Regions from separate parts of the Homo sapiens genome. Here region 1 is linked to region 2. Evidence: fine-mapped expression QTL. A gene starts in region 2. The other region holds a variant in brackets. All regions are shown on one strand. Distances are from middle to middle. Region 1 overlaps TRAF3 (TNF receptor associated factor 3). Region 2 holds the start of AMN (amnion associated transmembrane protein).

Region 1 (5,375 bases), 56 kb after region 2:
TCAAAGTGCTCAGTTTTGACATTCACCCTCATCTTATTAATCTAGCACCACCCTGACCCAGCATGCTGTGCACAGAGCTGTGGAGTGGGCCCGTTGTGGACCCACAGAGCACGTCACACCATGTCACACTGGTGAGGAGCGTGTGAGGGAGGTGCGGCTCCCTGTGTGCATGAGGGGGCTCGGGTTCAGGTAGGTGCCAATGTGCCCAAGGGCTGGGCTGGCAGAGGGGACACCACATAGGGCAAGTCTGTCTGCGCGGACTCTCTTCCACACTTGCTAACAAGGTACTCTTTAAGACTGGCTGCCTCCCACCTGCAAGTTCCCATCAACAGGTAAAGTAAACAGCTCCTCAAAATAAGCCACAAAGGTCCCAGCTTGCACAGCTCTGCCAGATGAGACCTCAAGATCAAGTAAATGAAAATAACCAGGAATGTAAAGGAGTTGAATCGAGTTCCTGAAGAAATGTGAGCTTTAGTAAAAATTACACCATGCACTCATAAACACACTAATGATTTGATCAATCATCCTAAATATTTGCTAACACTTACCTAAAGCACAAATTAAATGTTTCCAGATGGTGGTATAAAGTCTGGCTTCTCTGGTCTTTGTTTTCTGGATACCATGCAATGGCCATGCACTTCCATAATGAAAAAAACCTTGGGAATGTCGGCCAGTGTTTAGGTCAGCGTGTGCACCATGAACTTTCTTGGAAAAGTTTTTGCCCAGTGCCTTACGACCTTTACGAGGCTTCTGCAGGGCAGCTCCAGCACAGATGCCCTTCCTGTCTCTAAGGCTCAGCCTGCACCACTCCCCCACTGTCAACAGCCCCTGGCCAGCCCTGTACTCCCATGTACCTTGGTAAGGAAGGGAGTGGCTGTGAAGGGAGGTGAGGGACCCAGTGAGAACCAGACTCAGGAGCCTCAGGGAACACCGCTGCCTAGACCAGCCGCCTCACATCAGTAGCTGCTGCACTATAGGATTTTTCTTGTGTAGAGTTTCCCACCTCCATGCCTCCTCCATCCTTTCTCACGATACGGTAAGCCTCAGGTGAACAGAGGAAGTTTCTTTCACAACTCACCAGCTCCCTCAAAAATACACTGCGTTCCTGTACCCAATTCATCTATTTTTGCTACTTAGAAAAATAAGAGCCAAATTCCTTCCACCCCTGAGCTCCTGGGCATCCTGGGGAGGTAGTTGCTGGGTGGGCGGGCGGAGCCCTTGCTTCCGAGCCCCGTTCTTGCTGCCTGCATGAAGCTGACAGGCACATGAGCTGACAGACTCCTAGCCTGACTTTACAGCTAGAAGCAAACAGGAATGAACGCCGGCAGCAGACAATTTGAGAGATGGATGAACTGGCGTTCTAGCCACACTTGGGTTAGCTTCATAGAACATAACTGTGGCAAAATGTGGGAAATTACTTATTTGTGAAAACAAAGTTTTCAAAACATTAATGTTAAAGTATATGTATTATAGATGTCATTTGCTTACAAACTTGCCGGTCCATTATGATGCTCACTAATCTTTCCAAGCTAAGTAGCAAGGGCACCTGGTACTAGCCTTGCCCGCCAGGTAAAAGGGTTGACCAGCCTCGACCTGCAGCCCCCAGCCCTGCCTGCCACTCTGCTCTCCACACTGGCCTATTGTGCCTCAGAAGCTCTACGTTCCCCTAGGCCCACCCAGCCAGGCCATGGCTGAGCCTACCCAGACACATGCAGTCCAGCCCCCGACCTTCTCCAGGAGGCCACCCTCCCAGTCTCTCTCAACTCCCCCATACCGCTCTGTGCTTTTCCCCTGGCCCTCCTGCCACTAAGACTGCATGTAACTAAGTTTCTCCAGGATGCGTCCCCTAGATCAGAGAACCAGGAATTGGCAAACTACAGCCTGCAAATCAAATCCAGCCAGCAGCCTATTTTTGTAAGGTCTTTGAACTAAGAATGCTTTTTAGATTTTTTAAGTGTTATAAAAACAAAGACTAAGTGTGTATGTAGTCCACAAAGCCTAGGATATTTACTCTCTTGCCCGTAACAGAAAGAGTTTACCAGTCCTTGCTCTGGACTCTACATCTAAAGAGCAGAGAGGAGTCGCTGGTGTGTAGGTTGTACGAAAGGCCAGTTTTGTAAATGAGTGCCAAACTGCTCTCCAAAGCAGAGGTAACAACAAATACTTCCACTAGCAGCACAAGAATTTCTATGAAACCACACTCTCACCAACACTTACAGTTATCAGTCAT[C/T]TTAATTTCTACCAACCAAGGACTATGGTCTTTATGCCCCTTATCCTGATTAGAAAGGTTTGGCATCTTTTCATATGCTGAGAGGCCACTTGTTTTCTCTTCCGTGAAATGCCAAATTGTGCCTTCTTGTCATTGTTTTGTGTGTGTGTGTGTGTGTGTGTGTGTGTGTGTGTGTGTGTGTTTTCAAGAGATGGAGTCTCGTTCTGTTGCCCAGGCTGGAGTATAGTGGTGCCATCATGGCTCACTGCAGCCTCGACCCCCTGGGCTCAAGCAATCCTCCCACCTCAGCCTCCAGAGTAGCTAGGATTATAGGCACATGCCACCATGCCCAGCTAATTTTTTTATTTTTTCAGGAGCTGGGGGTCTCGCTATGTTCCCCAGTCTGCTCTCAAACTCCTGGCCTCAAATGATCCTTCCACATCAGCCTCCCAAAGTGCTGGGATTACAGGCATGAACCACTGCGCCTGGTGGTGTCATTTTTTTAATTGGGTTCCTGTCTCGTAATATTGATTTGGGGAGATTCCCCATCTATTTAATATGTTAACAGCTAATCCTTTGTTAGTTTTATGTATTACAGATGTCTTTTCCCTATTTATAGCTTGACTTTTTTTTAAATTATTATACTTTAAGTTCTAGGATACATGTGCAGTACATGCAGACTTGTTATATGGGTATACACGTGCCGTTGTGGTTTGCTGCACCCATCAACCCGTCATCTACATTAGGTATTTCTCCTAATGCTATCCCCACCCTCCGACAGGCCCCAGTGTGTGATGTTCCCCTCCCTGTGTCCATGTGTTCTCACTGTTCAACTCCCACTTACGAGTGAGAACATGTGGTGTTTGGTTTTCTATTCCTCTGTTAGTTTGCTGAGAATGATGGTTTCCAGCTTCATCCATGTCCCTGCAAAGGTCATGAACTCATTCTTTTTTATGGCTGCATAGTATTCCACGGTGTATATGTGCCACATTTTCTTTATCCAGTCTATCACTGATGGGCATTTGGGTTGGTTCCAAGTCTTTGCTATTGTAAATAGTGCTGCAATAAACATATGTGTGCATGTGTTTTAAAAATACGGAACTGCTTCATGAATTTGCATGTCATCCTTGTGCAGGGGCCATGCTAATCTTCTCTGTATCATTCCAATTTTAGTATATGTGCTGCCAAAGCCAGCACTATGGCTTGACTTTATTTATAGTGTCTTTTAATGAAGAGAAATCTTAATTTTATTAGGCCAGTCACAGTGGCTCACGCCTGTAATCCCAGCACTTTGGGAGGCTGAGGCGGCTAAATCACTTGAGGTCAGGAGTTCAAGACCAGCCCTGGCCAACATGGTGAAACCCCGTCTCTACTAAAATACAAAAATTAGTTGGGCATGGTGGCACATGCCTGTAGTCCCAGCTACTTGGGAGGCTGAGGCAGGAGAATTGCTTGAACCTGGGAGGCAGAGGTTTCAGTGACCCGAGATCGTGCCACTGCACTCCAGCCTCGGTGACAGAATGAGACTCCATCTCAAAAAAAAAAAAAAAAAAAATTCAGATTAACTTATGAGTGATGCTGATGAAAAAGGGACAATCCAATATATAAAAACAGAAAGCAGCTCTAATTCTATCACAGAAGCAATGTCAAAAGGAGGTGTTCTCAAGTAAGACTAGTAAATGAGCCACTATGTCAAATTGACAGACATTGCTCAAGGAAAATATGCTTTCTAAACAAAAGCTGAAGAAAGAAATGACACGAACCCTGAGCAGAGCCCAGCCGGCAGCCCCGTGACCTTCTATATCAATGAGGTGGCCACAGGACTGAACTGGCTCCTGGGAAAGCAGGAGACAGACACCTCAACAGGCACCAGAACCAGGGGATGGACAAGTCTCAGGTTTACTGATGACTCTTGACTCTCCCAGTGATCAACAGCCACCAAGAGCAGTCACTTCTGATCTGAAGTGTAAGAATCCCCTGATCACCTCCTGAAGCAAATAGGACAATAGACATGATGTCTTAAGTCCTCAAATAGGATATAAACACTTACCTGTCCTGTCCTGAGCAAAGGAGAGTTTTAGATTTAGGAAAACCAACACTGGAGACACATTTCTCACAATCAACTCAGAGGCAGACAGTAACAACCATCCCTACTGCTGGGCACTAACCTGGCATATCTCCCTCAGCCCAACGCAGTCATGCAGGAGAAGCCACGGAGGCGAATCTGCCCCAGGTTCCCCACCACTGACGTAACAGAGAGAGGGCAAGAATCTCAAGGCTGCCAAGGAAACATTTCTGTCTGTAGGATCAAGTTCTTAACAGCAGGGAGGGCAGTTTTTACTAACATGCCCTCAACCCAACAAATACTGACAATGATAATTTATTGCATCTCTTATGCTATTTATCCTTGTAAGCCATCTTAAATCTCTTGTGTAACCAAGTAAGGTGTACGTAAATTTGGCAACCTCGAAACTGATCATAATTTAATATGTCCTAAAATATTCAATTTAAATTATGACTAGTAAATCATGTCCACAAAAATGGCTGAGTAAGGAACTCAAAGTCCATCCTTCAATATACACATTTTAAAAACTGGCAAAAACTAGGCCGGGCGCGGTGGCTCACACCTGTAATCCCAGCACTTTGGGAGGCCGAGGTGGGCAGATCACGAGGTCAGGAGATCGAGACCATCCCGGCTAACACGGTGAAACCCCATCTCTACTAAAAATACAAAAAATTAGCCGGGCGTGGTGGCGGGTGCCTGTAGTCCCAGCTACTAGAGAGGCTGAGGCAGGAGAATGGCGTGAACCTGGGAGGCGGAGCTTGCAGTGAGCCGTGATGGCGCCACTGCACTCCAGCCCGGGTGAGAGCGCAAGAATCCGTCTCCAAAAAAAAAAAAAAAAAAGAAAAAGGCAAAAACCGTTAGAATCTACTATTTTAAAACTTTGGAAAACTAATTAAAAACTTGCAGCAATCAGAAGAATGCTTAATCAAGAAAAACCAGGTGAATCTCAGCAAGAACCGCGAGTTCCATGGCATTTTAACTTTCTCTGGTCCCATCCTGGCTGCCGCAGTGGCCTAGAAGACAAGAGGCTGCCACTCCGGTGCATGCACTGGTCCCAGAGGGAGCAGAATGGGCCTCATCGGCAAAGAACTGCAGTTGTTT
Region 2 (5,352 bases):
CGCCTCCCTCTCCCTGCCCTCCTCCTGTTTCCCGGGTGGGAGCGTCGCCATCTTGCTGTGGGTGCCCTCCCCAGTGTGTGGCAGCTTTTGGGTTAAGGCAGCTTTGGAAAACCTGAAGGAAGGAACCAAGCGGCCCTGGGGTGGAAATGAGGCCCAGGGTCCCTGACCCCGCATGGGGCAGGAATGGGCCAGGCCAAGCCCATTGAGCCATCCTCCCCACCCGCACACGCGGGGGCCCCAGGCCTGGACCCCACATCTGGAGCCGACACCCCGACCCAGCTCACCAGTGACCCTCACTCAGGAGTGACTGAGCTGGCAGGTGTGCAGGTGACAGGATGAGGACGCAGCCCAGGAGTGGCTGTGAAGGGGCTGGAAGGAAGCTTTTGCCCAGAGGCTTGGCCTGCAGGCCCCACAGTCACCCTGGAAGCTGGTGGGCTGCCGATGCAATGGGACAGTGGCCACCGAGGATACTCAACCAAGCGGGCAGGCTGTGTGCCAGTGAAGCTGTATTTACTGTCGCTGAGGTGTGAATGTCATATATTTTTCAAGTGCCACAAAAGATTGTTCTTTTTTTCCCCAACGATTACAAAGTGTAAAAACCGTTCCTTGCTCCACCCGTAGGGGCTGCATTTGGCCTGTAGCTTGCGGAACTCCACCTTAAACAAGGAAATTAGCTTCTTTCTCTGGGGCCTTATCAGAGCCTTTAATACGTGATGAAGCTCCAGGAAAGTGCAGGCTGCAGCATTTCCCAAACTTACCTACTCATGGAACCCGCTTTCCTCCCAGTTCCCATCATGTTCTTGGAGTGTTGTGTGAAGCAGTTTGAGAAAAAGGTCCCCTAGGGCAGCAGTCCCCAACCTTTTTGGCACCAGGGACCAGTTTTGTGGAAGACAGTTCTTCCATGGACTGATGGGAGTGGGGAAGGTTTCAGGATTAAGCTGTCCCATCTCAGATGTCAGCCACTTAAGGAGTGCACACCCACCCAGGCCCCTCGCTGGCGCAGTGACAATAGGGGTCCCTAGGAGAATCTGATCTGATCTGAAGGGAGGCAGAGCCAGGCAGGAGTGGGCTCGCCTCTTCCTGGGCGGCCACTTCCTAACAGGCCAGGGACCCGGATGGTGGGTAGAGGGGGGGGTGTTGGGGACACTTTCCCTAGTGTTCTAAAGATGGAGCTTTAGGCACCAGGACAAGGCAAGGCTTTGGGGGAAGGGCATGGAGCAGGCGCTTCCTGGGAAGACCACCCACTGCTGGGCATCACAAGGGCTGTGGGGACAGGGGTGCCTCCCATCCCTCCCAGGACACAGCCTGGCTGGGACCATGGGACCAAGCTCCCCTAGGTTCCCCCCCACTCCCTGCCTCCTAGAATATTCTCCAGAGGCCAAAGTCCCAGTCCTGCAGTGCCTCCATGCCGGTGGGGTCCGCCCTCAAGGCACAGCAGTCCCTGAAGGCGCTTCAGAGACTCTGTGAACCCCCAGCCCAGTGGCAGTAGCAGCCCGGCCTTACCATGTCTGAGACGGCGTGACCTTCTTGCACCAGGACTGACACCATCTGCAGGAAGAAGCTGCCTCAGCCGAGCCGGGAGCAACCCCCACCGGGGCCACACGGTCTCAGGGGTCCAGGCCCATCACCGACCCCGCCGGCGCTCCCAGGCACCTTGTCCGCCGGGAACTCAACGGCGCCGCCGGCGCACGGGGTCCGGTTCTGGCTCCAGTTGGCTGCGACGTCGAAGTCCGTGTTGGGGACCCAGAGTTTGGAGACCGCCTGGGTCAGTGCTGGGGAGGAGGCGACTGAGTGCCCGGGATGCTCTCCGGGATGCTCCCTTCTCAGGGAAGGCCACCCACCCAGAGAAGTGCGGAAGGTCCGCGCGGATCACCCGGGACGCATAGGAACCCCATCCCCGGGGGCCCGGACCCAGACCCTGGTCCCTCCCGGCCAGACTGTGGGCGCCCTGCCCGGGCGCTCTCCAACGGACTTCTACTGATACCTGCAGAGCCCGCTCAAACGCGCCCTGCAGGACGCCTGCCTAGATAGCCTCCCGGCACTGCCCCCAGTTTGCCTGGCGCTGGAGCAGAGGACAGCGTTGTTAAGGACAGTGACAACTGGGGCATGGAGGAGGATGGGGCAGCACAGACCTCTTCTCGGCCTTGGAATCAGGAAGGCTTCCCGGAGGAGTCCTACCTGGGCCGGGAAGAGCTGCGACAGAGCGCAACCCGGTATGAGAAGTAAGAAGGGGCTGGGGGCGGCAGGACCAGGTCAGGCCGGCCCTGAATGTGGTGGGTGGGGTTGTCCTGAGGGAGCCGCGAGGGGTTTAGGGAAGGGGGCGCCAGGGACACGCGCCGGCCTGGTGTGAAGGCGGAGGAGGGCTCAGTGCTCCCTTGGGGACCGGGAAGCTGAGGCGGTCTGCCGAGCCCCGCAGGCGCACACTCGCTGCTCTCGGCAGGTTCTGGGGACCGCGCCCATTTCGCAGACGGAAAAACCGCGAGGGCAGGAGCCGCCGGAGGCCGGGGCTGGCCGAGGTTCCCGGAGCCCCTCCTCTCCTCTCCCGCACCGCCCGATGCACTGGCCGCGCACTTCCGGGCTGCGCACTCGCCAGACGAGGGAGGCAGGGCCGAGTTTCACGCCCCCAACCCTCCAAAGCCCTCCCTGCCCACTCCTCGGAAGATCTTCACCCTCCAGGCCTAGAGCGACCTCGGCCCTGGGTCCTGACAGACCGCTACCGTCCGGGCCCGCACCGGTGTGGTCCCGGCTCACCGCAGAGCTGCAGCCACAGCAGGACCCGGCCCAGGACGCCCATCTCGCCTCGGCTCCTTGCACCCCACCAGGAGACTTTGCCCCACTGGACCCACGTGACCAGGCAGGTCGGGTGGGGGCACCAGGGTCGGTTACACATTTACCTCCAGACCCGCCCAGGGCCGACTCTTCAGGCCCCTGGGAGGCACCTTCTCAGCCTCCCCTTACCCGCCCCTGCAGGGCCTGAACACCTTAGGTTCTCAGGAAGAAGGGCAAAGAAGAAGGGCTTGGCGAGACTGACCTACCCTGTAAAATGGGTGTCTTGCCGGGAGGGGGAATAAACGACCTTTGAATTCACCCCTTTCTCTGTCCTGTGTGCTGCTAGGGCTGAGCTAGTCTGCTCACCATTGGAACTGGGTGTCCACTTCTCCACGCAGTGCCCCTGTCCCATGGGCTGTGGGTGGTGGTTGGATGATAGAAGGAAGATCCTGGATGGAACATGGTATGTGGATGGTATAGGAGGGTGGATTGTGGATGATGGTGGAGAGTAGTGGATGGTGAGTAGGGGACAGCTGATGGACAGCAACATTGATGGTGCATGGTGTACGGCATATGGACGCATGGCAGATGAATGGTAAATGGTTGACGGGGTGGATGGTGAGTGATAGAGGGTGGATGGGTGATGAATGGATGGATGAGGATGGTGAGTGAAAAATGAATGAATGGCCGGGCGTGGTGGCTCATGCCTGTAATCCCAGCACTTTGGGAGGGTGAGGCAGGCGGATCGCGAGGTCAGGAGATCAAGACCATCCTGGCTAACGCGGTGAAACCCCGTCTATACTAAAAATATACAAAAAAATTAACCGGGCATGGTAGAAGGCGCCTGTAGTCCCAGCTACTTGGGGGGCTGAGGCAGAACGGCGTGAACCCAGGAGGTGGAGCTTGCAGTGAGCCACGATCGTGCGCTGCACTCCAGCCTGAGCGACAGAGCGAGACTCCGTCTCAAAAAAAAAAAAAAAAAAAGGAAAAGGAATGGATGGTAATCAGGGAGTGGTGGATGGATAATGGCATAAATGGATACATGGCCGACAGGTAGATCATAAAGAGTGGGTGTTGGCGGGGCACGGTGGCTCACGCCTGTAACCGCAGCACTTTGGGAGGCCAAGGCGGGCAGATCACCTGAGGTCGGGAGTTCGAGACCAGCCTGACCAACATGGAGAAACCCCATCTCTACTAAAAATACAAAATTAGATAGGCATGGTGGCACATGCCTGTAATCCCAGCTACTTGGGAGGCTAAGGCAGGAGAATCGTTTGAACCTGGAAGGCGGAGGTTGTGGTGATCGGAGATCACGCCACTGTGCTCCAGCCTGGGCAACAAGAGTGAAACCCCATCTCAAAAAAAAAAAAGTGGGTGTTAAATGGTGGATGTTTGGTGAGTGATGAATGCTGAATGGATGGATGGTGGATGGTGAATAGATAGATGGTAAATGGATAGATGGTGGATGATGGTTGCATAAATGGTGAATTGTGGATGGAGATGGACGGTGGATAGTGAATAGATGGTGGATAGTGAATAGACAGTGGATAGTGGATAATGGGTGGATAGTAGATGGTGGATAGGATGATAAATGGATGGGTAATGGATGGTAGATAAGTAGATAATGGATAAATGGTGGATGATGGATGGTAGGTGGATGATGGTTGGTGGGTGGTGGATAATGGACAAGTGAATGGTGATGAGTAGATGGTGAATATTAAGTGGATGGATGGGCGGCAGATGGTAGATAGTGGATGATAGATGGTGGATGGTGGATGGTAAGATGAATAGTGGTTGGTGGATGGTGGGTGGTGGATGGTGGGTGGATGGAAGGATGGGTGGTGAATGAGTGAATGGTGGATGGTGAATAGGTGGATGGTGGATGGTGGATGGTGAATGGCCGATGGTGGATGTGAATGGTGATGGGTGGTGGATGAATGGATGGATGAATGGCGAATGGTGGATGGCAGATTGTGGATAAGTGGATGGTGGATGGATGGATGGTGGATGGGTGAATGGGTGGATGGATGAATGGTGGATGGTAGACAGTGGATGAGGGATGATAGATGAATGGTGGGTGGTGGATGAGTGGATGGCGAATGGGTGAATGGACATATAGATGGGTGGATGGATGGATGGTGGATGGTGGGTGAGTGAATGATGGGTGGATGGTGGATGAAGGGATGGTGGATGGTAGATGGGTGGATGTGTGAATGGGTGGATGGATGAATGGACGCTGGATGAGTGAATTGTGGATGATGGATGAGTGGATGGTGGATATGTGAATGGGTAGAGGGATGGATGGGTAGATGGATGGTGGAGAATGGATGGTGGATGAGTGAATGGTGGATGAATGGATGGTAGGTTGTGGATGGGTGGATGGTGAATGTGTGGATGGATAGATGGTGGATGGATGGATAGTGGGAGTGGATGGTGGATGGATGAATGGTGGATAGATGGATGGTGGATGTATGCATGAATGGACGGTGGATAAATGAATGGTGAATGAATGAGTGGTAGATGGATGGAAGGTGATGGTGGATGGTGAATTGGGATAGATGGGTGGTGCGTTATGAATGGTGG

Evidence for each region. PIP is the estimated chance that this variant, and not a neighbour inherited with it, causes the effect. A credible set is the group of variants that fine-mapping cannot tell apart.
Region 1: its variant is the best candidate, but not a certain one, in a credible set for the expression of AMN in lung (TOPMed, PIP 0.51).

The regions. Positions count from the first base shown.
Region 1 is chr14:102,863,887-102,869,261 of GRCh38, reverse strand. All of the region lies in intron 2 of TRAF3 (TNF receptor associated factor 3), which reads right to left. It also overlaps the pseudogene RNU6-1316P. Among named protein-coding and RNA genes, the nearest start is that of AMN, 56 kb to the left of the region's middle. The variant C/T (reference allele first, on the strand shown) is at 2,231.
Region 2 is chr14:102,920,131-102,925,482 of GRCh38, reverse strand. It overlaps AMN (amnion associated transmembrane protein), which reads right to left and starts at 2,820. Exons shown (of 12, transcript NM_030943.4): 1 at 2,752-2,820; 2 at 1,654-1,772; 3 at 1,504-1,548. The coding sequence starts at 2,794. RefSeq lists silencers at 1,035-1,233, 2,397-2,596.